Linked DNA regions of Homo sapiens: all the other regions are linked to region 3. Evidence: fine-mapped expression QTL. A gene starts in region 3. Each other region holds a variant in brackets. All regions are shown on one strand. Distances are from middle to middle.

Region 1 (8,183 bases), 84 kb before region 3:
TTATTACCAACTTTACTTCTGGCTTCCAACTTCTCTCCTTGCCTTGATCGTTGGGTTTTCTGCACACATCTGTCTTCCCTGCTATGATTGTAATGCTCCAGGGTTCTGATACCCCACTTGAGTCTTCATCTCAACCTTGTTGGATCCAACTCAGATTCACCCCAGAAAACCTCAGTTCCTCCACAGCCAAGACACTCCCTAGCCCAGCTTGGGCAAGGCTAACCCAGTTACCGCATTCTTAAATCTCCCTGGCTGACCTGTATTTGTTTACAAAGGGAAGGAAGTCTCTCTTTCTCCAAACACAGACACCCTTTACAAAGCACAAGCAGGGAGATTCTGTTCATGAATATCCTGAGAGACAGGGTGTAAGCCCTGCAGCAGAAGCAGCCCTGGTCTCAAAGGCAGGCTTAGTTCAAAGACTTTTCTCTCCTTCTCTTGAGCCAGTGCTTTTCCTTCCAACAGCCTGCTGATGCAAGGAGTGGTTCCTCAGCTAGCAAGTCTGCATAATATTGCCGGAAGTTCACAGGCTTTCTCAGACCCATCCAAAGATGGATCCTTTAAAATCCCAGAGACATCTTACAGTTTCTCTGATTGGGCCAGAATTTCTTCATGGGGATTTCATGTTCTCCTTTTTGGAGAGAAGATGAGCACCCAAAAGAGGGTGGAGAGGCTCCATTCCTTTCCCCATCTCAGGAAAATGAAATTCCAAGGGCAGAGATCAGGGGGGAAATCACATCTTGATCGTTGGCAAAACGGAAACTATTAGGCTTAGCATATCCTGTTTTGAGTAAGGAAAAAAATAAAATTCTCTATTCCACACCCCACCTACCCCTCCCCCCCAAAAAAATCCTATCCTCATGACTGAAGGAGTTATTCTGAGAAGCTTATCTTTTCATATCTACAAAAGTACATCAAATATTCCCCAGACAGTCCTACCACCTCATCACCTCCAACCTTGCCAGCTCACACTCATTTTTAAAATCTCACTCCTAGCTTATATCCTGCCCATTAACAGAATTGTGATTATGGAATTAGGCTGAAACAGTGTCTACATTCCACACAATCTCTAACACACTGATACTTGGTCATTGTTATTAATGACATTAATTGTAACATTTATTCTCCTTAAGAATGTATAGCATGACATGAGGTTGCATGCTTTCTAATCTTTTTTTTCTAATTATTTATAAACGTTCACATTCTGTGTGGTCATCAGTTGTCTTCAAAGGAAACACTGACATTTTCTGTTAGCAATTGCTCTGCATGGAATTGGTTATCTAATATGTCTGGTTAACAAGCCTCTCTTTGACATTTAATAAGCTGCAATGATTTCACATTCAGGTAGTTCCCTGTTTACTTGAGGGCAAAGGGCTGTATAGAAGCTAAGTTAGGGGATTTGATTACAAAAACAAAGATTTTTTTTATGGATAAGAGGAAAGTAAAAGTTCTTTTTTTCTAACTCTGTCTTTCGAAGTTTCATTGTCCAGCCTTTCTTTGGAAACACATGGCATCTTAATACTTTTACCGGTCACAGTTTTCTTTGAAATGCATTTGTCATCAACTCAATGCTTTCGCCATGACTCCATCTCTGTAACCATGAGATATTAAATGAAGGGCAAAGAGCAAAGTTTCAATTCCATTTTATTAAAACAGAACTAGATCTTCTGAATCAAGATAAACTTGAGTTTTCTATTTAAAAAAAAAATTATCCCTCAGTGTATGTTCATGAAGACTGTGTATCCAACCAGCCAATATTTCAGAATATATTGAAAGAAAAGCATAATTCACAGGTCATTAAGCTGCCTAAATCCTCAAATACTGTGCCACTGGTCATTTGATTTTATGCTTGAGTAGGTTTAGATGGTGAAACAAATATTTTCCTGATTCTCCTGCCTCCAAAGGAAAACATGCCCCAAAGCCGCCTAGCAAAATACCCCAAATTACCTCTGCTATTATGCAAGAATTCCTATCTTTGCAGTTATGGATAAAACAAAGACGGAATTTTGAAGGACCCAAACACTTTCTCCTAAAATATATTCTTGCTAGTATTCCGCTTCAGATGAAAGTTCAAATCCTAAGCAGTGACTTACCAGGCTTGCATCTCTCAGCTCCTTGAAGAGGTTCTGCTTTGGTTTTGAGGGGTTATGTCTGAAACTTAAAATATAAAATGCTTTCAGTTAAGCTGCCTGGCATGATCGACTTTGTTTATTCCAGTCATTCCATTCCAGTGAAAATTTCAATCCCTTCTCCCTGTAAAATCTTCAAATTATTTTCTTCCTCATCCTCCTTCTCTCCTAGACTCCAAGCCATGGATGAAAAAACACACGATCTTGGCTCACTTGCTAAGGAAAAGGTGTAAAATGTACATGTAATCAAGCAAATGAGGAATTGACAGTTGAAAAATGATTTAAAATTCTTCAAATAGATATAGCTAACCCTGTTAGCTCTCTGCTTATATATATTTGGTAAGAGAATAAGCTTTTTCAGCACAGGAATGATATAAGGGCAGGAAGGGACACTTCTGCAAGTCAAACAGAGAGAGAGAAGAGGAGAGGATTCGAAAAGGTGCCAGAGGGTAATTGGACTCTGGCTCTGACAGTTGATCCAAAGCACGCTACAGGAAGCACACTGGTTAGCTAAAGTTAGAGAAACAGTGGCCTCTGATGGAGCCCCAGATGTCACACCAATTACACATGGTACAGAAACTTGCAGTTTATTTTGACAGTCATTCAAGTTAAAACATGAGATGAGAAGTTTGCAACAGAAAAGCCATCTTGGGCCTAATTATTTCATTTATATAAACAAGGTCAAAAGGTCTCATTTTATTATTATCTTCTGTCCTTCCTTCCCAGCACTGTTTATTTTCCACCTCCTATTTTAAAGGTGCAAACATATTCTAACAAGGTTCATCTTTAAAAATTTTGTATCAAAATGGAAACTTTTGTTTTCTGGCTCCCTCTATGTTGATATAAGCAAACAATCTTACAGTGTTTATTTTGATAATCAGTATTGAGCAAATATCTTACAACTGGGAAAAATCCTCCTGCTCTGTAGAGAGCAGTTTTGCCCACTGGTCACATACAATATAGGCTAGAATTACAGACACTGGGTAGTGAGAAAGTCAAGTTCTTCCTCTAAGCACTATGTTCATTTATTTTCTTTTTTTTTCTTTTTCTTTTTTTTCTTATTTTAAGTTCTAGGGTACATGTGCACAACATGCAGGTTTGTTACAGAGATATACATGTCCCATGTTGGTGTGCTGCACCTGTTAACTCGTCATTTACATTAGGTATATCTCCTAACGCTATCCCTCCCAGCTCCCCTGACTTTTGGGTATACCCACATGTGCTAATTTCCTCGGCTGTACTCATATTTGTAAAAATGGCAGAAAAGAAAATAAACGGTATTTCTCTGGGTATACCCAAAGACTAATGACAAGCTGATCCTCAAAAAAACCAGACAGAAAGACTGAGCCCTTGATACAGAATTTTTCTTGGCCCTTTGTCGGACTTGCAGCAGGGGGAGCCTCATCTACTTGGCCCACGTGCTCAGCCCCTGGTGGGAGGGAGCATGTGAGTAAGCAAGTGCAGGGTCCAGTGGGCTGCTTTGAGTGCTGACACAGGAGCAAACTCCATGCAGGGCCTGCGGCCAGACCAGGCATGTCACCCTGAGGGGAATGCAGCAGCTCCCAGGCAGGGGTGCCCGTGATTCCAAAGCCCCAGAGGAGGTGTTAGTTTGCTAATTAGCTCTTTTAGTTCTGCCATCCGCAGCTCAATAGACTGCGGTGTATTAGCAAGCTCAGTTGGCCCCTTGACTTGTTCTGGCCCACGGCTCTGGGACTGTCTTAGCTCTGCCACTGCTTCTGTTGTGTGGGGTGGCTGCCCTCCACCAGCAAGGGCAAAGGGCAAGTGTTACAGCCCTACTGGGTACCCCTGCTTGGTGGGTCCTGAGCTCTTGTCCAGCGTCCAAGAAGAATGAGGTCATGCTGACTATTGAAAGGTGATGAGAGCAGAGAA[T/G]TTTAATGAGTCACAAATCAGCTCTCAGCAGAGAGGGGAACTGGAGAGGGTTGGGAAGGTCAGGTTGTCTTTGCCAAAGTCAGGTCATCTCTTCTTGATGTGGCTGAATCTGGGGCTAGGGGTGTGCATGCTGATTGGTGTGTGAGTATGGAAAAAAAAGGTTAAAACAAAGGCACCAGTAAAAGGTGGGCACAGCGTAAAAACAATTAGGGAAGGGTAGGTATATGTAAAATCGTTGAAGTTTGGGGCTCACTCAAAGGAAAGCATGCCAAATGGAAGACAGTTTCTCAATCCGGTCTGTGGATTTGGCTTGTAGCTTGGCCTTCAGGCTTTAAGTCATTTTTGACTTGAAGGTGGGGTTTCACTGGGGACCTGACCACCCCTGTCTACCTAGGATTTCTCTGCTTTCTGCCTCTATCACCCTGATTCTTTCCAGATTTGGTATTTATTGGGTTTGCAGAGACCTCTAGTGTGCTTCATCTAGTGATAAGGTGGGGTAACACCCAGAACAGACAGTGATGGTGAACTTGGGCAAGGCCAGTGCAAATTGCAGGGAGGAAAAAAAAACATCTGGGGGGAGTTTCCTGAACTTTGAATAGCAAATATTTGGTGGAATAACAACAATAACACACAAGTAAAAGTAAAATAAAATCAAAGATAATTAAAGTGGAAGGCTCTATTTACCAGAAACTTACCTGTTAAAGATAGTTTCCATGGTTTTCATTTTAAGTAATAGTGAAAAATCGTGAAAAATACATTTAGCAAGAAACTGAGTCACGGGCAGTTTTGCTATTCCATATTCCCTCAAATGAGCAGCCCTGTTGTCTTATATTATCTGCTCTCTAAGCACAAAACTGAATTACCATGAATCAATATCAAGATATTAAGATAATTATTCTGTTGAGTTTCTATTATTATTCTCCTCAAGCATACATTTGTGGTCTCATTTCCTAGACATATTTTATGTGGTTTTATATAACTTCATGAAAAATTCTCAACACATGGATGTTTCATAATGTCACTGGATGGTGGATTTTCCTTTATGCCTCAATACACATTCATTGAAAACATTGTGCAGTCCTAATGGAAAACCAAGAGGAATCCTAGCAAAGGTCTCCTTGAAGTTAGCAAACCTAATGAAATATTTTGTGCAATAAAACATTGTTTTCATTTGTGACATAAATTCATTCTTATCTACTTCCTGAGTTGATTTTGTATTTATTGGAGCTATAAACAGCTCCCAAAACTCAGCCTACTTCACTGACAAGGACTCTGATTTCCGTTCAGTTAAAGCAGCTATCTCAGCTTTGTTACTGCAGTATTTGATCCTCTTCTCTTTTCTGCTCTCTCTCTTCTATGAAGGTCACCTCTCTCTCTTAGCCATGTGTCAGAATCTATTCCACTTCTCTCATATTTTCTAAGTCAGATAGAGAAGGATGCTACCTCTCTATTCATTCTGATATTTTATTTTGAAACAGTTATAAGGGACACATCTAAAGATTTTAAGTAGTAGTAGATAATCTCATGCCTTTTTTCTTTTTTCCTAAATTTTTTTCATGATAAAAGTAATAAAGGCTTATTGTACAAAATTTGGAAATTCCAGAAATGTACAAAGTATAAAAATGGTAGTGCAGATCAGACACATTACCATCAGCCAGAGATAATCTCTCTCAACCAATTCTTTTTTTCCTATTCACATATTTATTTTTAGTAATATTTGGATAGCATTGTGTCCTGTTCCACCTACCATTATATTATGAGCATTTATGTCCCCATATTCTTCTTTTTTTTTTTTTTTTTGAGACGGAGTCTCGCTCTGTCACCCAGGCTGGAGTGCAGTGGCGTGATCTCCGCTCACTGCAAACTCCGCCTCCCGGGTTCATGCCATTCTCCTGCCTCAGCCTCCCAAAGTGCTGGGACTACAGGCGCCTGCCACCATGCCCAGCTAATTTTTTGTATTTTTAGTAGAGATAGCGTTTCACCGTGTTAGCCAAGATGGTCTCAATCTCCTGACCTCATGATCCGCCTGCCTCAGCCTCCCAAAGTGCTGGGATTACAGGCATGTGCCACCGCAACCGGTGGTCCCCATATTCTTAAATGTGATTTTAATTTCTACATAATACTTATAATTTGTTTCATTCTTCCCCCATTATAGAGCATTTAGATATTTTCCAGTTACTATTTTAAATAATGTTATTGAGAGCATCTTTCTTGCCATCTTTAAGTTATCCTTCTTCATTAAGAGAAATAGATTATTCCAATAATTCTATGCACATAATTTCAGTGACCTAGGGGAGATGAGGGGCCAAGAGAGACTCTATGACTTGCCTGAGGCCATATAACTACTTATTGGAAATGCGGAATTCTTTGATATTTTCAGTTTCTTTATCTATCATGATCGAACCCTAGGCTTTTTAATTGCCTTTTTTTAAACCAGTTTCATTCCATTTTATAACAACTCCTGCCACTGCATTCCCATCCTTTCCTTGCAGCCCCACCCAAAAGCCACCTGCCTGGTCCTTAGGGCTTCCCTCTTCCCATTTGCCCGGAAAACCACTATCAGGTGATTCCGATGATCCTCCTTATATCACTATCAGGCTCAAAAACTTCATTGACTTCTTAGTGAAACCCTGCATGAAATATAAACAACTTGCCTGACTCTCAAAGCTCCACTTTTCCCTTCAATCTTTCCTCATCCACTCCCACTTGTCTGCTGTTCCCTATCACATTCCCAGCTTCCTGCCTTCTTCTTATATTTCTTTCTTTTTCTTTTCTTTCTTTCTTTCTTTTTTTTTTTTTTTGAGATAAAGTCTCACTCTGTTGCCCAGGCTGGAGTGCAGTGGTACAGTCTTGGCTCACTGGCACAGTCTTAGCTCACTGCAACCTCCACCTCCCGGGTTCAAGCGATCGTCCTGCCTCAGCCTCCCAAGGAGCTGGGATTACAGGTGCATGCCACCACTCCCAGCTAATTTTTGTATTTTTAGTAGAGACGGGGTTTCAGCATGTTGGCCATGCTGGTCTTGAATTCCTGACCTCAAGAGATCTGCCCGCCTTGGCCTCCCAAAGTGCTGGAATTACAGGTGTGAGCCACTGCACCCAGCCTTCTCCTTATATTTCTTAACCAGTCAGAATACTCCTTTGTTCCTCCTAATCTCTTTAACTTCATGCAGTCCTCTAAGGACCAGTGTGAGTCTCATATATTCCATGAAATAGAATGAACTTCCTATTGTATCTGAAATTGTTCCATTTGAGTTGTAGTCTGAAATGAACCACTTTCACTGGAAAATGTGGGGGCAAATAATTAACTCTGCTGAGCCTATTTCTGCATATGCAAAATAAGAATAATTTCACTAATACCTGCCCTTTCAACCTCCCAAGATCCTAGGAAGGATTGGATATGTGTTATAAAGTTTTGGTGAGCTGTTAACTGGTATACAAATGAGGGAAAATATTCTCCACTGTGTCCACTCATAGCTGTCACTTTAAACCATTTCAGTATCCAAGTCTGTACAACATATAACACAACACTGAGTTATGTTTCATCCCATCAAATTCTCTCATTGTCTTATGGATGCTAATCATTTTTCCTCAGCTTGGTTGTGAAGTCTCTCAATGTAATACAGTATCTAATATTACCTCTCTAACCTGGGCATTGCTGTAATGACTACCAGTCTAATCTAGATAAGTCCTAGCTGGTAAGGTCTGGATGGGGTCATAATGGGATTTAGACATAAGTGGATGAGTCAGTGAGGCATCGGTGTTCCAGAATTTTTCTGGAGAAAAAAAGTGTTACACTTCAGGAGTCCAGGAAGACTGGGATTAAGGTTAGCATACACCTTGTGAAGTCTATGTACTCTCAATTTAGATTTTGTTTCTTGGATATATTTACTGAATTCTTATAGCAACCCATATTAGGCATGCTTATTGTTGGAAAGCAGAAGCAAGAATGTCCTTCAGACACCTAACCCAGCCTTTGGTTACCCCAGTCAGAAGGGTCAGGCTACCCAATCATGATATGTTGTTAAACATGGCCTCCTGATGATCTGCTTATAGATTATTCATTTAATCTGAAATTTACTTCTCAGTTTTAATTTTCTAGTTTCTAGAGTCCTAAATAATATTTTTTCCTAACAGGTCTACCCTGAAAAAAGACAGTTCTAAGGTAAA
Region 2 (8,183 bases), 22 kb before region 3:
TTAGAAGTAGGAATCCCTGAGAGCTAGACTACTGTGAATCCTGCTGCTTCTCTGGGTCTAGCTGTGCAGTGGGACTGCCACACTTCAGGCTGGTGCTAGGGGATGTCCACAAAAGATCCAGTGATGTGACCTCTCTTTTAGCCTTCCAGCAGCAGGTACCAGCAACAACTCTGATGGTGTTGGAATGGGAATGATGTAGACTCTGTGAGATTTCCTTCCTTATAAATCACCTTAGTATGTTGTTCTTCTCAAATGCCAGGTGTACTGGTAACGTACTGGTCATGTAGACAGAGTGAAGCCTTCCTGGTTAGGCAGGGTGATGCAGGCTTGGGTAATAGCTAAGGTTGTGCAAAAGTGTACTCGTTCCTAGGCACTGTGTTACTGTACCTGCAAATGTTGTAATGGCATGTATTGGTTGGCCTCCAGCTAGGAGGTGGTGCGTGCTTGCAAAAGAATGCCAGTTGCAGTGGTACTGGTGGGATTTGTGCTTGCCTTATGTTATCCAGGGGAGGTATTCTGGTGTCTCAGACAATGGGTGGCACCATGGAGCTCTCAAAATTACCTGTCCTTTATACTAAGCTACCAGGGTAGGTAGAGGGACAAAATCAGGTGGCGCTGGGCCAGGCAAGGCTGTATCCTACTTTCCCATGTACAGGTGCAAGCAGCGGCCCCAGTGGAGATTGGAGGGCGGTTCCCTGGCTACTGGGGTAATAATCCAGGTGGACCAAAGCTGCCTCTGCTGCACAGAAGAATCTGCACAAGGAGTGGGGAGGAGCAGGCAGCAGTAAGCCCTATCCAGCTCCCATGCGCTTGGCAAGGCAGGTCTCACACATGCAGTGTTCCACCAGCAGCAGCTAGCTGGGTTGGAGTTAGCCTGCACTCTGAACCCAGAACTGCCCCAGGCTATAAACCTTCCCTATCCAGACAGAAACTGAGGTTTTCCAACTACACTTCTCCTGGTCTGCCTGTGAAACAGCACAATCAGCTCCTGCACGTGTGGCTAAAGCACACACACTGCTTGTGCCTCAGTTCTGGACAAGGGGGTTCATCACCACTCAAAATTATATCACAAATCTCAGTTGGGAGCTTCTCTCAACCTGTGACCACCACCTGAGTTAGCTGGCTGATTTCTGCAAGGTCCCCTATTAGGTAGGATCATGAATGGCTTCCTTCTGTCCCTGCTGGAGTCTGGGAATGCACAAAAAGCACATCCCAATGCTGCTCCTTCTCATACACTCCCTACCGCTTACAAAATCAGCACTGGGCAGGGTTAAGGCCTCACCCCATGGCCTGGATTGCCAGGCCCCACAGTAGGAGTGAATATCATGGAGGCAGCGTCTTCCACCTCATGCTCTAGGGACTCACAGTTTTCTGCCTGGCTCATTCATGGTGTAGGCTGCCGCCTTCTGCTTCTTTCAAAGGGTCTGTAGTTTCTTTCCGTTGTTTTGTTAAGTTCTTGTGTTGCTTCTTTGAAAAAAGTTCACAGCATAAATCCCTACACTCTATTTTGTCTTTCCAAGGGGAGAGGCAGGCTAACAGTGTCTCCAATCCGCCATCTTGGAAACAAAATGTTTTCCCCTTATTTTTTAATTAGTTCAGAACTTGAGGGGGAAGAAAAAGAGTGGCACTATTTTGGGGGGACTCTTCAAGAACTCCAATTTAAGACTTTGGCAAATATTTTCTGATGATGAAACTACTATCTGATAGAGCAGAGGGAGAGAGCTGTCTAAAGAATCATGTAGCCCCAAGAGGAGGCTCTGGAAAGGAAGTGTATACAGGAAATGCAGGAAAAAGAAAATAAGGCAAGACTTATGATCGTCATGTATCTGAATTAATCATTGTTCTGATTCCTACTTTACTGATTAGGTATCAATAAAGCTGCACAAGGGAAAGCAGTTTGTTTTGTTTCATTGCTGAATTTTTAGCGCTTAGAGTTCTGCCTGGCACATAGTAGTTGGTCAATGAACACTTTTTAAATAAACAAATAAAATGCAATTGCCCGTGGTGGAATTATAGATTTCTTTTACAGGTGACTACACTGAAGCCAAGGGAACTTGATTACCCAAACAGAAACTGCTAATTCATGGCAGAATCCAGGCTTCCTGGACGCTATTAAAATGCTTTTTCCATTATAACATGCTGCTCCCCTGGGTAGCCTCCCACCTACAAGCCCTTGCCAAATTATCTTACCTCTAATCTAATTAACTTTAAAGCTCTTTATTCTCTGACTTTAATGTTTTGGGCTACTCCAGCAAAGTGGTTGCTCTCCCCAAAAAAATGACTCTCTGAGTCTCTGTGCATTTTCTTCCCTCTACCTGGAATAGACAGCGACTCATCAAATCTTTAAGTTTCCATTCATAAACCTTCTTGCTTCCAAGAACCTCTTCCTGATCAACCTTATTCATCTTTAGTCATACGTTAAGGCATTTATTTTACCTACTTGTAAATATTTTCATAACTACATTATTTTTACTTAAACTTTAGGTAGAACTAAAAACATATTGGAGTGGGCACCCAGATCTCATCTATTTGCCTTTCTCTGGAAATTGTCACCTAGCTTCATTCCTACCCAAAACACAGGGTGAGCCAATAGCTATGGCTGTACTTGAAGATCCAATCTTCCTGGTCATAGTGATGAATCCAGGTGTGAACAGCTGACCCACCCTGGGCTGAGCAGACTGCCTGTTCTAGAAATTGAAAATTCCAAGTTGAGAGACGCAGAGGGAAAGAAGGGGATTGGAGGGAGGGAAGGGGATTGGAGGGAGAGAAGGGAATGGGAGGGAGGGAAGGGGATTGGAGGGAGAGAAGGGAATGGGAGGGAGGGAAGGGGATTGGAGCGGGGAAGGGGATTGGAGGGAGGGAAGGGGATTGGAGGCAGGGAAGGGGATTGTAGCTGAATCCTGTGCACAGCAAGATGCTTGAAAGAAAACCACAAATTCAGCTTTCTGGAGCTTTCTGGTCTCTGTTGCTTCTGTGGCCTAGTTTTCCACCCTTCTTTGGATTCTACATGTTCCAGCATCTTTCCAGTACATTCTTGCTTTTGCAATGGCCTGCTAGAGTTAGTTTCTGTGAGTTGCTATAACACTGAGAAATAATCCACTCTTCTCATTTTGAAGCTAAGAAAACTGAGGCCTGGAGATGACTTGCCCAGAGTAGCTTTCTTTAGGTTTCCTTGGGAATATCTGTCCTTTCTCTCCCGCTAGCTTGTCATGCACCTCTTCTTTGTCTCTCTCTATGCCTGTATCTTCACCACCCTGCTTGCACACTGGTGAGAATGTGCTTCTCACCCCCGAGCCTGGATTCCCTAATAGCGTTGTATGTTTCATCTCATGCCTCTCTTCACCTGTTTTGAGAGAGTCATTGTATAAAACATTCATTGCCTTTTTGGCCTTTTTGCCCTTGTCTTTCCACAGCCGTCTATCATGGGTCATTCCTCAAGGTCATGTGTATGCTAGCTTCCAAGTTGAAGACCAGTTATGTGAAAGGCACTGTTTAGGAACATGATACTGGCTGGACACAGTGGCTTATGCCTGAATCACAGCACTTTGGGAGGCCGAGGTGGGTGGATTGCTTGAGCCCAGGAGTTCAAGACCAGCCTGGGCAACACAACCAGACTCTGTCTCAACAACAACAACAACAACATAAAAAAATACAAAAATTAGCCGGGCATGGTGGCACATGCCTGTGGTCCCAACTATTTGGGAGGCTGAGGTGGGAGGATCACTTGAGCCCCAGAGGCAGAGGTTGCAGTGAGCCATGATAGCACCATTGCACTCCAGCCTGGGCGACAGAGGAAGACTCTGTCTCTGAAAGCAAACAACAACAACAAAAAAACCAACTAATACTAAAAGATAAAACTGTTCATCATCTGCATTAATATTGCCAGACATCACACCAAAATCCCCAAAATTAAAACCCTTGATTTGGACTCAGTAACAATAGAAGGTGATCGCTGATGCTTCTGGCTCAAAGATTTAGATTTTATTTGTGGGTCTGCCTCTTTGTACGGCTGTGGACAGGACATGGATTGGGTATAGACAGCCCTCTTGTGAAGGCCACTCTCAAAGGCTTCTAGGTCCGCCGAGGTTGGGAAGCGAGGGTGCAACATGGATGGGGATAGAAATGGCCTTCTTTGTAATAATAATGTAAAAAATACAAACATAAAGGCTGAGTACTTTATTTTAAATTCTACTGTGGGAAAGACAAGTATATTTGTTTATGGAATTGAATGTCCTTCAGAAACTCATGTTATTCTTTTTTTAATGCCCTATAAAAATAACTATTCCATTATACTCATGAAGATGTGTCATTTAATTTTAACTACAACATAAATAAAAAGGAGGCTGCACTCGCTTCTCGCTTGGGGATTAAATAGTTTTTTCCAAAATAAATTCTGAAATGTTGTTCATCATTTAAAACTTAATTTTTAGGCCGGGCACGGTGGCTCAGACCTGTAATCCCAGCACCTTGAAAGGCCGAGGCAGGTGGATCACCTGAGGTCAGGAGTTCGAGACCAGCCTGGCCAACATGGTGAAACCCTGTCTCTACTAAAAATACAAAAATTATCCGGACATGGTGGTACACGCCTGTAGTCCCAGCTACTCTGGAGGCTGAGGCAGGAGAATATCTTGAGCCCAGGAGGCAGAGTTTGCAGTGAGCCGAGATCATGTCACTGCATTCAAGCCTGGGCGACAGAGTGAGACCCTGTCTCAAAAAAAAAAAAATTAATTTTTAGTACCTAATGATAATTTAGTATCTGTATATTTTCTATTTGTTTTGGCAACAGTATTTATTAGGTTTTACACTTATTGTGTGCTTAGCTGTCTTGATATGTCCTTAAGGAATTTAAAATCTGGATGTACAGTCAAGATTTACACATGTGAAACAATCAAACGACCTAAGACAGCATAGATTTACATCCATGAAGGTCAAGAAGCAGGAAATGATTACTATTAATAAATA[C/T]GCTTACGATTTTCAGAGAATGGTTTCCCTTTCAAAAGCATTATACTGATTGACCATTCAACAATCCAAATAATGAAGCATACTTGACGGAGGCAAAACATTTTGCAATGACTAAAAATTGTTATGCTTCATTCACTACGTCTCTAAGTATTTAAATCAAAGAATACTTTTCAAGCTGTGTTTCATAACCACTCAAACAATACGACTATCCAAGGAAGTTATAAAAGTAAAGAGTCGCCTTGAAAAATTATTTCCCCATGCGATGTCAGTTGAAAAGCTGGTTAGACAGCTTCACTTTCAGACAGGCATGCTGGCTTGGAAACAGTAAGTGCTAGCCAGATGCTCACGCCAACAGTGACTCAGAGATATGCTGTTGCTTCATGGCAGGGAGGCCAGCGTTGCAGATAGATTAGATTCTGTGGATGATGCTGTGGATGCCGAGCATACTTTAGGTTTGCAACTTTGCTGACACAAATTCAAGAGGAATGTGAAATGTGACAAAGAAGACTCCTAATCCATTTTTCATTCCAGGAAGGCATAATGCATAAAGGTTAAGGACACAAACATGCGAATCTAACAACCTGGACTGATATCCAAGCGCTTCCACTCTTAATCTTTGGCAAGTAACTTCTCTGCCTTCTTTTCCTCATCTGTAACACAGATATAACAAAAGGTTTACTTTGACGGTTAAATGAATTAAAACACGTAAGATACTCAGTGTCCAGCACATAGTAAATGTTCAATTAGTGTAAGCTTTTCTTGTTTCATGGAAGGCTACTTGAATTGTTTCTTCTCCCCCCACCCCCCACCCACCGCCTGTGCCAAGTGGAGACTCGTTCTGTTGCCCAGGCTGGAGTGCAGTGGTGAGATCTCAGCTCACTGCCACCTCTGCCTCCTAGGCTCAAGCAATTCTCCTGCTTCCGCCTCCCGAGTAGCTGGAACTACAGGTGTGCACCACCATGCCCGGCTAATTTTTATACTTTTGGTAGAGACAGGGTTTCATCATATTGTCCAGGCTGGTCTCAAATTCCTGACCTCAGGTAATCTGCCCTCCTCGGCCTCCCAAAGCGCTGGGATTACAGGTGTGAGCCGCCGCACCCGGCCTTGAATAGTTTCTTAAAGGATACACCAATTCACATAAAGCAGTGGTCTCTGAACTCTTTTCCTCAATCCCATATCCAGTTGTACGAAGCAGCTGGAGAGAATAAAAGGGGTGAGGAATGAGAAAGTCCACATGGATATATGCTGCGCATAAGTTACATGTCACTTACACCTGCATGGAAGCCAACATTGTGTTGTCTATCTATGCCATGGGATCTAGAAACACACACAGCTCAAGGCAGATGGAGGTAATAAACTGTGGATGGAAGTAATAACCTGTGATCATTATGTCCATTTTCTTTCTTTTTTTTTTTTTTTTTTTGAGACGGAGTCTCGCTTTGTCGCCCGGGTTGGAATGCAGTGGCACAATCTCAGCTCACTGCAAGCTCTGCCTCCTGGGTTCATGCCATTTTCCTGCCTCAGCCTCCCGAGTAGCTGGGACTACAGGTGCCCGCCACCATGTCCAGATCATTTTTTTTTTTTTTGTATTTTTAGTAGAGACGGGGTTTCACCATGTTAGCCAGAATGATCTCAATCTCCTGACCTCATGATCCACCCACCTCGGCCTCCCAAAGTGCGGAGATTACAGTTATGAGCCACCGCACCTGGCCCATTCTGTCCATTTTCTTAATTTCAAAGTATACAGTAGTCAGAGGACAAAATTAGAGCCAGGCAAAGACAGAAGAGGGAGCAGACTCCCAGGGAGATAAGAGAAGAGGATACTTCATTCGTGTTTTGAGTGTTTAAATCCATCCTGTCATGTGTGGGGTTTCAGGTAACCACATTGGGGAGAGAAGGTGATGGGCAGGACGCTTAAAGTCTGAGTGATGTTTTTGCCCTAATAATCCTGGTCTTCTGCAAATAGGAGCCTGGCAGAAACCTATTAAAATCTTTGCTTGATCAATCGATTTTTAGTCCCTTACCCACTGGACTAAAACCTTGACGGCAGAAGCTTCTCTATCTTGCTTTTTCACATATTCCCCTACCAACCACTGTGCTTAGAACATACTAGCACTTGACATGTATTTTTTATTTTTACTGTTGAATTTGATCTTAGAAACTTGTCATTGAAAAAATTCAAACATATCAGCTCCATATGGGTGCCCATGCATTTGTAACACTTATTTTGAGAGTGCTGGACAACAAGCTGGGAATGTAGGAAGGATTTGGGAAGGCTGCACAGGTGTGGGAATCCCATCACCGTGTCTAATCTCCAAAGTCTCCTCTGCATCAGCTCTCACTAATCACCACTAGCCGATGGGCAGTGGATCAGACCTCATTTGACCTTCGGTAGACGGCAAAGCAGTTTTGAAATTCATCTAGATGCTGCATCACGAGAAACACAGGAGGGCATTTATATCCTTCCAGATCCTTGATTTGTGTGTGTATGTGTGTGTGTTTGTGTGTTTTCTGAGACAGAGTCTTGCTCTGTCACTCATGCTGGAGTGCAGTGGTGCAATCATAACTCACTGCAGCCTTAAACTCCTGGGCTCATGTGATCCTCCCTCGTCAGTTTCCCAAGCAGCTGGGACTACAGGCACGATCCACCTCACCTGGTTATTAAGAAAAATTTTTGTAGGGATGGGGTCTCACTACATTGCCCAGGCTAGATAGAACCTTGTTCCTTTGAGGCTCCAGCAAACTGCCATCACTGTGACACATCAATGCTACATATAACTGGCCTGCCTGTGGATTTCAAATTAATCTTGAAGAATGAAAATAAAAAGTTAAGCGATTATAGGAAAATGCCTCTAGTCCAACTGACGAACCAGAATTTTTAGTCTTGAGTCATTTCTCACTTAAACCTCAAACCATTAGGTGCCTAATTTGTGAGAGAAGAAAAGGCATAGATTGATGACTGGATAAACCTTGTCAGGAGCTGGAAAAACCAGATTGTTGGCACTATTAAAATCTTTCTCATTTATTGCTCTTTTTCATTTCTCATTTGTTCTTTATTATAAACATAAATATTTGCTGAAATTTAGAAACGTATAGAATATGCTTTTAATCACACTTAACTCAGATTCTCAGGCTAATTTGTTGTCTGATTCTCATGATTCATGGAAGGGTCAAATTTTGGACTTTTAGATTCCTTTCCCTGCAAGTTTTTCATTGTGTAG
Region 3 (8,183 bases):
CAAAGTGTCTTACTTTACCAAAGGGCAGAATGCACTTCAACTTCCAGTTAGAGAAATCTGGAGGACACTTGGAGCCATGCATGGGGTGTGTGTGGGAGTGGGCGAGCCTTTGGTGCCAAAGAGGGAAATGCCTTCCTCAGCTAAAGGGCCAGAGGGAATGTCGGGGGTTTCAAAACCAGGAAGAAGTGGAAGGAAGGAAAGAAGTAAAACTTGTGTATGTTGCGCATCCCATAATAAGCCAGACACTGTCATCTTATGCATCTCATTTCATTCCCATCCTATTAAATGACAGTCTGGGTTTGGTGGAAAGTCTATCTCAGACTGAGTTTAGGAACTCACTCAAAAACCAGAATGAAGAAGATGATTATCTAGCCTTATATATGTTTCAGTAAAGTCCAGGAAGTGCCATTACTGCTTTTTCAACATTTCTCATAGCCAATTAACTTTATTTCCATATATTTTAGTGGCTCTCAACCTTGGCCACACATTAGTATCCCCTTGGATGCTTTGAAAAAATGCTGATATCTGCGCTCCATCTCATCCCAATCAAATAACTCCTTGGAGGAGTAGACAAAGAGGCAAATGTTACAAAGAAAATCTCCCTGGGTTATTTTAATATGTACTTGAGAACTGCTGTACTCATTTGCAGAAAATTCCTTATAAAACTAAAAGGGATTTGTGCACTTTTTGCAAAGATTGCCTGTAAGAGAGAAGCTAGGAAATGGAAACGCATTTCTGAATCTGGTCCAAAAAAGAGATGAGATTTGATTTTATGAGTCTAGTAGACCTTATCAAAACTGCCTGGGAAGATCCAAGGAACACCAGAATATTAGAAAAAGTTTGCTTCTGCTCCTTTCTCAGAGCTTTGACCCATAAAAAAGCACTGGTTACCATAGGCCACTGCAGATGTCCCATATCGTTGGGATAGCGACTGTCCAATTCCACCCATAAGTTTGAGGTGAGCAGTTCTCTGAGACACGGGCTGCTTGTCACTGTATTACAGAAATATAAGAAACCACCGGGCATGGTGGCTTACACCTGTAATCCCAGCACTTTGGGAGGCTGAGGCATGCAGATCACGAGGTCAGGAGATTGAGACCAGCCTGACCAACATGGAGAAATCCTGCCTCTGCTAAAAATACAAAAAATTAGCCAGGCGTGGTGGCACACACCTGTAGTCTCAGCTACTCTGGAGGCTAAGGCAGGAGAATCACTTGAACCCGGTAGGTGGAGGTTGCAGTGAGCCAAGATCGTGCCACCACACTCCAGCCTGGAGACAGAGCGAGACTCCATCTAAAACATATATATACACACATACATACATACACACACATACATATATACACATACACATACACACACACACACACACATATATATATGTATATATATATATACACACACACATATGAGAGACCAGAAATGTCTAATTAGCAACTCAGAGTGTGGATTTTAGAGAAAGAACTCCATAAAGGTAACTCTTGGAAAAACATTAAATATTACAGTAATGTAATTGATTCAAAGATGAATGTAAAGACCAATAATTTATCTTGGTGTTTATGAAGATGAAGAAATAAAGGCCCATACAGAACCATACACAAATGAAAATAGTTCAAAATCAAATCTAACTGCTCACAGAGAGCTGAAAACACAGCAGACCCTAAATATATTTTTAATGATTGATGAACTGATTAAGATTTATTTTGAGATTTGATCAGTTTTTAGTAAAGTTTAAATGTTTTTGTATTTTTCTTTCATTTGTACGTTACATTCACTGTGGTACAAGTGTATACCTGCTCTAACAGTTAAAAAGTGGTTGAGGTTTCTGATGCTGATCATAAAATATGACAGGAAAAATACTCTATTTTATAAAGAAAACATATGAAGGCAATTTTCATTGTCTGTAGAACTGAAATAAGGATTAATCTTTATCTCAGAAAAAGTGCAAAGTGGCTTATCCTGTCTTTCTGGCAACAATAGGGCTGGCAGTGTTGCACAACTCCAGGGGGCGCCTTACACATAGTGATCTCTGTGCTTGTCCCCTGCCCACCCACAGTTGTACAAGGGCCATGCTATGCCATTTTACTTGACAGCCCTGGGCAGCAGGGCTCCTAAGCAACAGTCCAAAAGGAAGGCCAAGGAACACATCCATTAAAATGTAGGCTATTTGTTTCATGGTATTCATTACCACGAATAAATGACAAATTAAAAATATTAGTAACCAATAAATAGATGTTTAGCTTTCTCTTTAAGTTCTGGCAGTGAACGCTGCAGCAGAGCATTCCTGAACACATGTTGGTGCTACCATGTTCCATGTCTGTGACTCGTCAGTGGCCAGCCCCTGTCAGCAGTCTTCCCCACATTCGTCCCTATAACACATCCTAGATCATGGAGGGGGGAAATGTTTTCCTCTGAGAGTACTGGCCCAAAGGGAGGGAAAAAGTAACTGAAGGCCCCACAAGTAATAGGCCACCTGATTTTTTTTTAGAGCATTATAAAACATTCTTGGCCAGGCGCAGTGGCTCACGCATGTAACCCAGCACTTTGGGGGGCCAAGGTAGGCAGATCACCTGAGGTAAGGAGTTTGAGACCAGCCTGGCCAACATGGTCAAACTTAGTCTCTACTAAAAAACAAACAAACAAAAAAAAAAAACAAAAACAAAATACAAAGTTAGCCAGTTGTGGTGACAGGTGCCTATAATCCTAGCTACTTGGGAGGCTGAGGCAGGAGAATCACTTGAACTCAGGAGGCCGAGGTTGCAGTGAACCAAGATTGCATCACTGCACTCCAAGCCTGGGCAAAAAGAGTGAAACTCCATCTCAAAAAAAAAAAAAAAAAAAAAAATTCGAATTGTCTACTTTTGAAATTAAGGGAAAAACATCTACCTTTTCTCTTCCAGACCATGCCAATTAAAAGAGGAAATTCCAGGAGTCAGCAGAAAGGAAACAAAAAGAGAAGGTGATAGAGGAGAGGGGAGACCAAGTGAAGAGGATGGAGAAGAAACTATAAAAATAAGAGAAGAAGAAGAGTTCATGGCAAATATAGGAAAGAGCCACGAGACAAGAAGGATGGAAATGGGCAGATGAGAGAAAAGGGAAGAGAGTCTGGGTTCTGAGTTGTTTGCATTATTTGTGTACAGCGTGCGTTCCTTTGGGCTGTCAATATTATTTCAAGATAGAAGCACCAAGGTGTTTCCTTACCTAATCTCTGAAGTGGCAGACCATCATCACTTCTGCCGGGTTCTATTGGTCAAGCATACCAACCTTTACAAAGTGGCAGGGAGCTATGCAAGGATGTGAATACCAGGAGGATAGGATCCCTGGGAATGACTTGGAAGGTAGGTGGCATGGTGGGCAGAACCCACAGCCTAGGGTGAGATGGCAGGAATGTGGAATTCCAGTACCTTAATGTGATATGAACTGATCTGAGTGAATGTGTTTGAACACTCACCACATGCCAAGAGCTCTTCTAATCTCTTTGCATGTAGCATCTCATTTAACCCTCTTGACAACTTACCGAGGCAGACACTCTTTATCTAGAGGAGGAAAGTGAGGTACAGAGGTTAGTAGCACAGTGATAAAGCTGTTATAAGGAAGGACTTGCCAGGACCTGGAGAGAGACTGGGTGTGAGGAAGGTAGGCTGTCACAGTGTCCTGTGGGATTTTTCCTAACTGATAAACCACCCTGTATGGTTCAACTGATGCATCCATGCAGGGCTAGGATTCATTCTGACCTCGTCATAGCAGCTTTCCAGGGGCCAATCCCACTCCAGCCTAAAGCACCCCATATGCTATCATTTAAACTGCAGTAGGAACTAAGCCTTACACCAGAAATTCCTCCCTGATGGGATTCCTGGAATTGTTCCTAAATAGCTGGGTCTTATTTCCTGACAATGCCGCCTGCCCCGAGGCTTGATGTAACTCTGCACAGCTTCTGCAGTTTGGAGAGGCAGGGAAATGCCATTTTGTGTTTGAATCCAGCAGGTCAGGCTCCTAAAGAGGTCAGGTAGTCCGTGGAGAGGACTACTGGTGTTTACTGTTTATTACATCTCTCCCAATACACAAAATCTGGGGTTCACCAAAGCAGGCGGTTTTCTTCCACATGCTCCTCTAGGATGGAAAATGCCCTCCAGTGGAAATGCCTTTCCACTGTGCTTCTGCTCAATTTTCCTCCAAGATTTCCTCTAACTGTGGACTGCCAGCTCCTCCCTGACGTCTTCAGGCACCAAGCCAACCTGTTCTTGTTGCAATCCTCAAGACTCCTTTCAGCATCTTAACTTTTCCCCCAGTTTTCTTTCATTTTCTCCACCTGTCTGTGTTGACTGCGGTCTCCTTCCTTCCAGCCTTTTCCTTCCTTCATCTTGTCCTACAAAGCCACACGTGTACCGACAAGTGCCAAAGAGTTTGATCATTTACTTAATGTCAACAAAAGAAAAAAAAAAAAAGCTCCAGAGTCGCCTTGGCCTGCAGCACCCAAGCAGAGTGAACAAGTGGGGCCTGCGCACCCTCCTACCCTACACCTAGCAAGGAACCCCGAGCTCTGAAACGTGGAAAGGCCCAGATCTGCAGATTTAATCTAAGTCCTGCAGTCCCCAAGAGATCACAGACTGCAGATCCCTGTCTCATGAACTAAGAGAGGAGAGGACAAGCCTACCCCGGACTACCGCAGCTCGGGGACAGCGCGCGGGCCAGGCGGCCCGAGATGCGCAGGCCACGCAGCCTCGCCGACGAGTGGCCCTGGAGAGCCTCCAGGCGCCCGGGTGGGGCCGCGATTGCGCCCCGCCAGTCACCCCGGCATGTGGGCGCGGCGGGGCGGCGCGGGCGGGACGGCTACAAGAGCTGTTTTGCGTCCGGGCCGGAGTATTTGCTCAGCCCGCCTGCGCCGCTTGGGACGCCTCTGCCTTTCCCTCCCTCCCTTCCCCGACGGCTTCTGGCGGCCAAGTGGATGTGGCGGGTGATCGAGCCACCCTGCCCAGGGGCGCCCAGCACTGGTAGGTGCTGGGGGTGGGGCGAGGCTTTGGGGAGAGTGTGCGTGGGGTGGGAGTAGGGGGAAGGGAATTTCCTCGGAGGTTGCATGGGTGCATGGGAGGCGCAGGGGCCAGAGCGGGCGGGCGGAAGCCTCACCCCCGCCTCCACCCCTTCGCGGCGCCCGGGGCGGGCTCAGGTGCGGGGTTGGGCGGCGAGAGCGGCCGCGGCGGGTGTCCGGTGTCCGGTGTCCGGTGTCCGGTGTCTGGAGCCGCTGGCTAGGTGAGCGGCGGTCCCCGGGGCCTGGGGGCTTGCAGGGGGTGGCGGGGGAACTTCGAGGGAGAGGGTCTGCCGGGGCTGAGGACCTTCGGGGAAGTTCTGGAATCCGGCAGGGACACGCGGCGCGTGCTTCCACCCGCGGGGAGTGCAGGCCCCGGGAGGGTCCGGGCTGGCCTAGAGTTTCTAGACTCCTAGCAGGAGCACGTCCTCGACTTGCGCATGGAAATCTTCCAGGAGGGAAGTCCCGGGAAACGGTGGCAGCTGGCGCAGCACCCCCGCAGCACGTTCCCCGCGCACCGGCACCCAGGGGCGCCCCCACGTGGGGTCTGGGAGCGCGCGGAGGCCAGTGCAGCGCCGCCTCCCTCGGGCTGCAGCGGCGGGGCTGGCCCAGACCCAGACCGGGTGCCCAGTGCGCTCAGCCAAGCGGCGCCCCTGCCCGCTCCTGGACTCGGGGGTCACGCGGGCACCGGAAGGAGCTACAGTTTGTAGGTTTTCTGAGTTGTCTCTCCCTTCCCAGGGAGCTTAGAGAAGCAGCAAGCGTGGCACCTCCCCCTTTCAAACAGATGCTCCTCATCGCTCCAAAGGCTTTCGTTTGATTGCTGGTTTAATAGAAACAACGACTTGGGTACGATTATTTTAAAATAGTGAATAAATAAGTGGAAAGCATACAGGGGCATAGATTTGGCATATGAGTGGAATTCTCTATGTATACTAAATCTGTGTGTACAGTAATCTCAAATTTCTGAAGAATAGTATATATTTACAAACTGCTGTCATCTCTGGTAATTTGTTTCATCCTCAAAAACAGCCCTTTTGCTGGTAGATGAATAAGATAAAGTTTCAATAAGAAAACAAAGTTGGACCACAGAGCTGGCTGTTTTAAAAGAATTAGAATTCAAACTGTATTGTTAATGTTATAGTTACACTGTCCATACCACAATACTTTTATTTATTTTTTATTTTATTAGGTCGGTGCAAAAGTAATTGCGGTTTTTACGTAAAAAAAACCGCAGTTACTTTTTTTTTGGCCATGTAAAACACAATAACTTTTGCACCGACCTAATGTTTTTAATTTTTGAGACAGGGTCTCCTTCTGTCACCCAGGCTGTGGTGCAGTGGTGCGATCTCGGCTCACTGTAGCCTCAAACTCTCCAACTCAAGAGATCCCCCCACCTCAACCTCCCAAGTAGGTGGGACTATAGGTGCGGGCCACCACGCCTGGCTAATTTTTATACTTTATGTAGAGACGGAGTTTTGCCATGTTGCCCAAGCAGGTCTTGAACTCCTGAGCTCCAGCAATCCACCCATGTCCACCTCCCAAAGTGTTGGGATTACATGTAGAACCACTGTGCCCGCCTACTATTTTTATGATTTAGCCTGTATCTAAGGCCTTTTAAAATTGTATTTTGTTTAGGTCTCAGAGTTATTCAAAAGACAGTTGTATTGTAGAACAGTGTGAAGGTGTGAGAATCAGGCCAAATCTATGGTATCATGGAAAACAACGGATTCTCTGACCTTTTAGCAATTGGTGTTCAGAATAAATAGCAGGTGTGGGCTTGTTGCTTATCATTTCTCTCTTTTAAGAAAGGGGCTGTGTTAGCTGAGCTATTCCTTTGTTGGATCTTGAATAACCGGAGATTTGCTGCCCTTGATATAGTATGGGAAAGTCCTCTGAGTTTGAATCAGTATCAGCAATGATTACTTCCTTGTCAGGGAGTGAAAGTAGGAAAGCCCTAGTTAGTTAATTTCCTGATTTCTATTTCTTCTACCCTGGCTCCACCAGGCTCCTTCGCTTCACAGTAGATTATGTCAGATACCCACACATTAGAAGTCACAGACTGAACCAGTCCTCGTTTCACAGATGAGGAAACTGAGTCCCAAGGAGGTGAGGTGACAGCACAGAGTCACACCGCTCACTAGAGGCGGAGCTGGGAGTTGAGGCTGGAGTGCCTCTGGGTGTCTTGGGTGTACTGTGCTGAGCTTGAGTTGGGGTCTGAGAAAGCCTTGGAGCGGGGGTTAGGGGTTGGGAATTAGAGGGTGAGGGGGACAGGTGATTTACACCAGTACCATTCAGCAGTGGCAGAATGGCCACATCGTCAACGGCCTGACCACAGATAGTTGTCGGCTGGGTCCCCCAAGTATTCTTGGAGGCACAAGGAAGCCAGTGTCTTTCCTTCAAGATGAACTAGTTAATTTTAATGTTAGAAATCCACGTTTGCTATAAAAAGTAAAACAAAACAACATAAAAATGGAAATAATGTGAGAATTTCATCACAGAGGTGCCATGAACCTCCTTGCACATGTGAGAGGCTGTGCTTTTTGTGCTGTTCTTAGTGTTTGTTTGGAAGGGGAAATTGTAGAGACGAAGTGGATGACTAAGTGCAAGGGGAAATGGGACTAAGTGTCTGGTGAATACGTGGGTAAGCAATGTCCACACCTGGGTCAGTGTGACAGTCGGTTCCTTGCTGTCCTTCCTGGCTGGGGTGTGTGCACCTGGCCTCCCCTAAGCTTAGCTACAGTTGACCAGGAGGAGGCTTCTGCCCTGTGTCAAGCACCATCAGTTCAGCGTTTCTGTTGCTGCAGGAATTTGCTGGCTTCCATTCTGAAATTTCATACATGGCACCACATCCTGCTGTTCTGATTCTGGGCACACAAATAAACTCACAAAAAGGCCTCTGTGTTGTGTATTACAGTGAAGCTGAGTTAGAGCTGGACTGCCCGGCTCTGCCGCTTACCAGCTGCTGACCTGTGCTCTATCTTCCTAATCTGTGAGATGGGCATAGTGATGGGCTGGACTCCAAGGGTTATTGTGAAGATTAAGTGAGTTAACACATGTAGAGTGCTTAATTAAGATGGTGCCTGGTACAAGAAGTGTTAGCTGTGTTATCAGGAATATGCAGGGCGGGGGAGACTGGAGGAATATGACTTTGACACTTTAA

Which allele goes with the higher level. Positions count from the first base shown, and alleles are read on the strand shown. Sizes are in standard deviations (SD) of each study's normalised expression. Not every link is listed here.
For the expression in left ventricle of the gene that starts at base 4,861 in region 3, allele G in region 1 goes with a lower level than allele T (small effect, 0.32 SD a copy in GTEx).

Evidence for each region. PIP is the estimated chance that this variant, and not a neighbour inherited with it, causes the effect.
Region 1: its variant is fine-mapped to the expression of SH2D4A in left ventricle (GTEx, PIP above 0.99).
Region 2: its variant is fine-mapped to the expression of SH2D4A in fibroblasts (GTEx, PIP above 0.99). The same link has a PIP of 0.9 or more in sun-exposed skin.

Annotation. Positions count from the first base shown.
Region 1 is chr8:19,225,078-19,233,260 of GRCh38, forward strand. LOC100128993 (a long non-coding RNA gene) reads right to left here. Exons shown (of 5, transcript NR_038919.1): 3 at 2,091-2,154. Among named protein-coding and RNA genes, the nearest start is that of SH2D4A, 85 kb to the right of the region's middle. The variant T/G (reference allele first, on the strand shown) is at 4,017.
Region 2 is chr8:19,286,363-19,294,545 of GRCh38, forward strand. No RefSeq gene overlaps it. Among named protein-coding and RNA genes, the nearest start is that of SH2D4A, 23 kb to the right of the region's middle. The variant C/T (reference allele first, on the strand shown) is at 4,963.
Region 3 is chr8:19,308,833-19,317,015 of GRCh38, forward strand. It overlaps SH2D4A (SH2 domain containing 4A), which reads left to right and starts at 4,861. Exons shown (of 10, transcript NM_022071.4): 1 at 4,861-4,991. LOC105379306 (a long non-coding RNA gene) reads left to right here. Exons shown (of 4, transcript XR_949550.3): 4 at 2,901-2,992.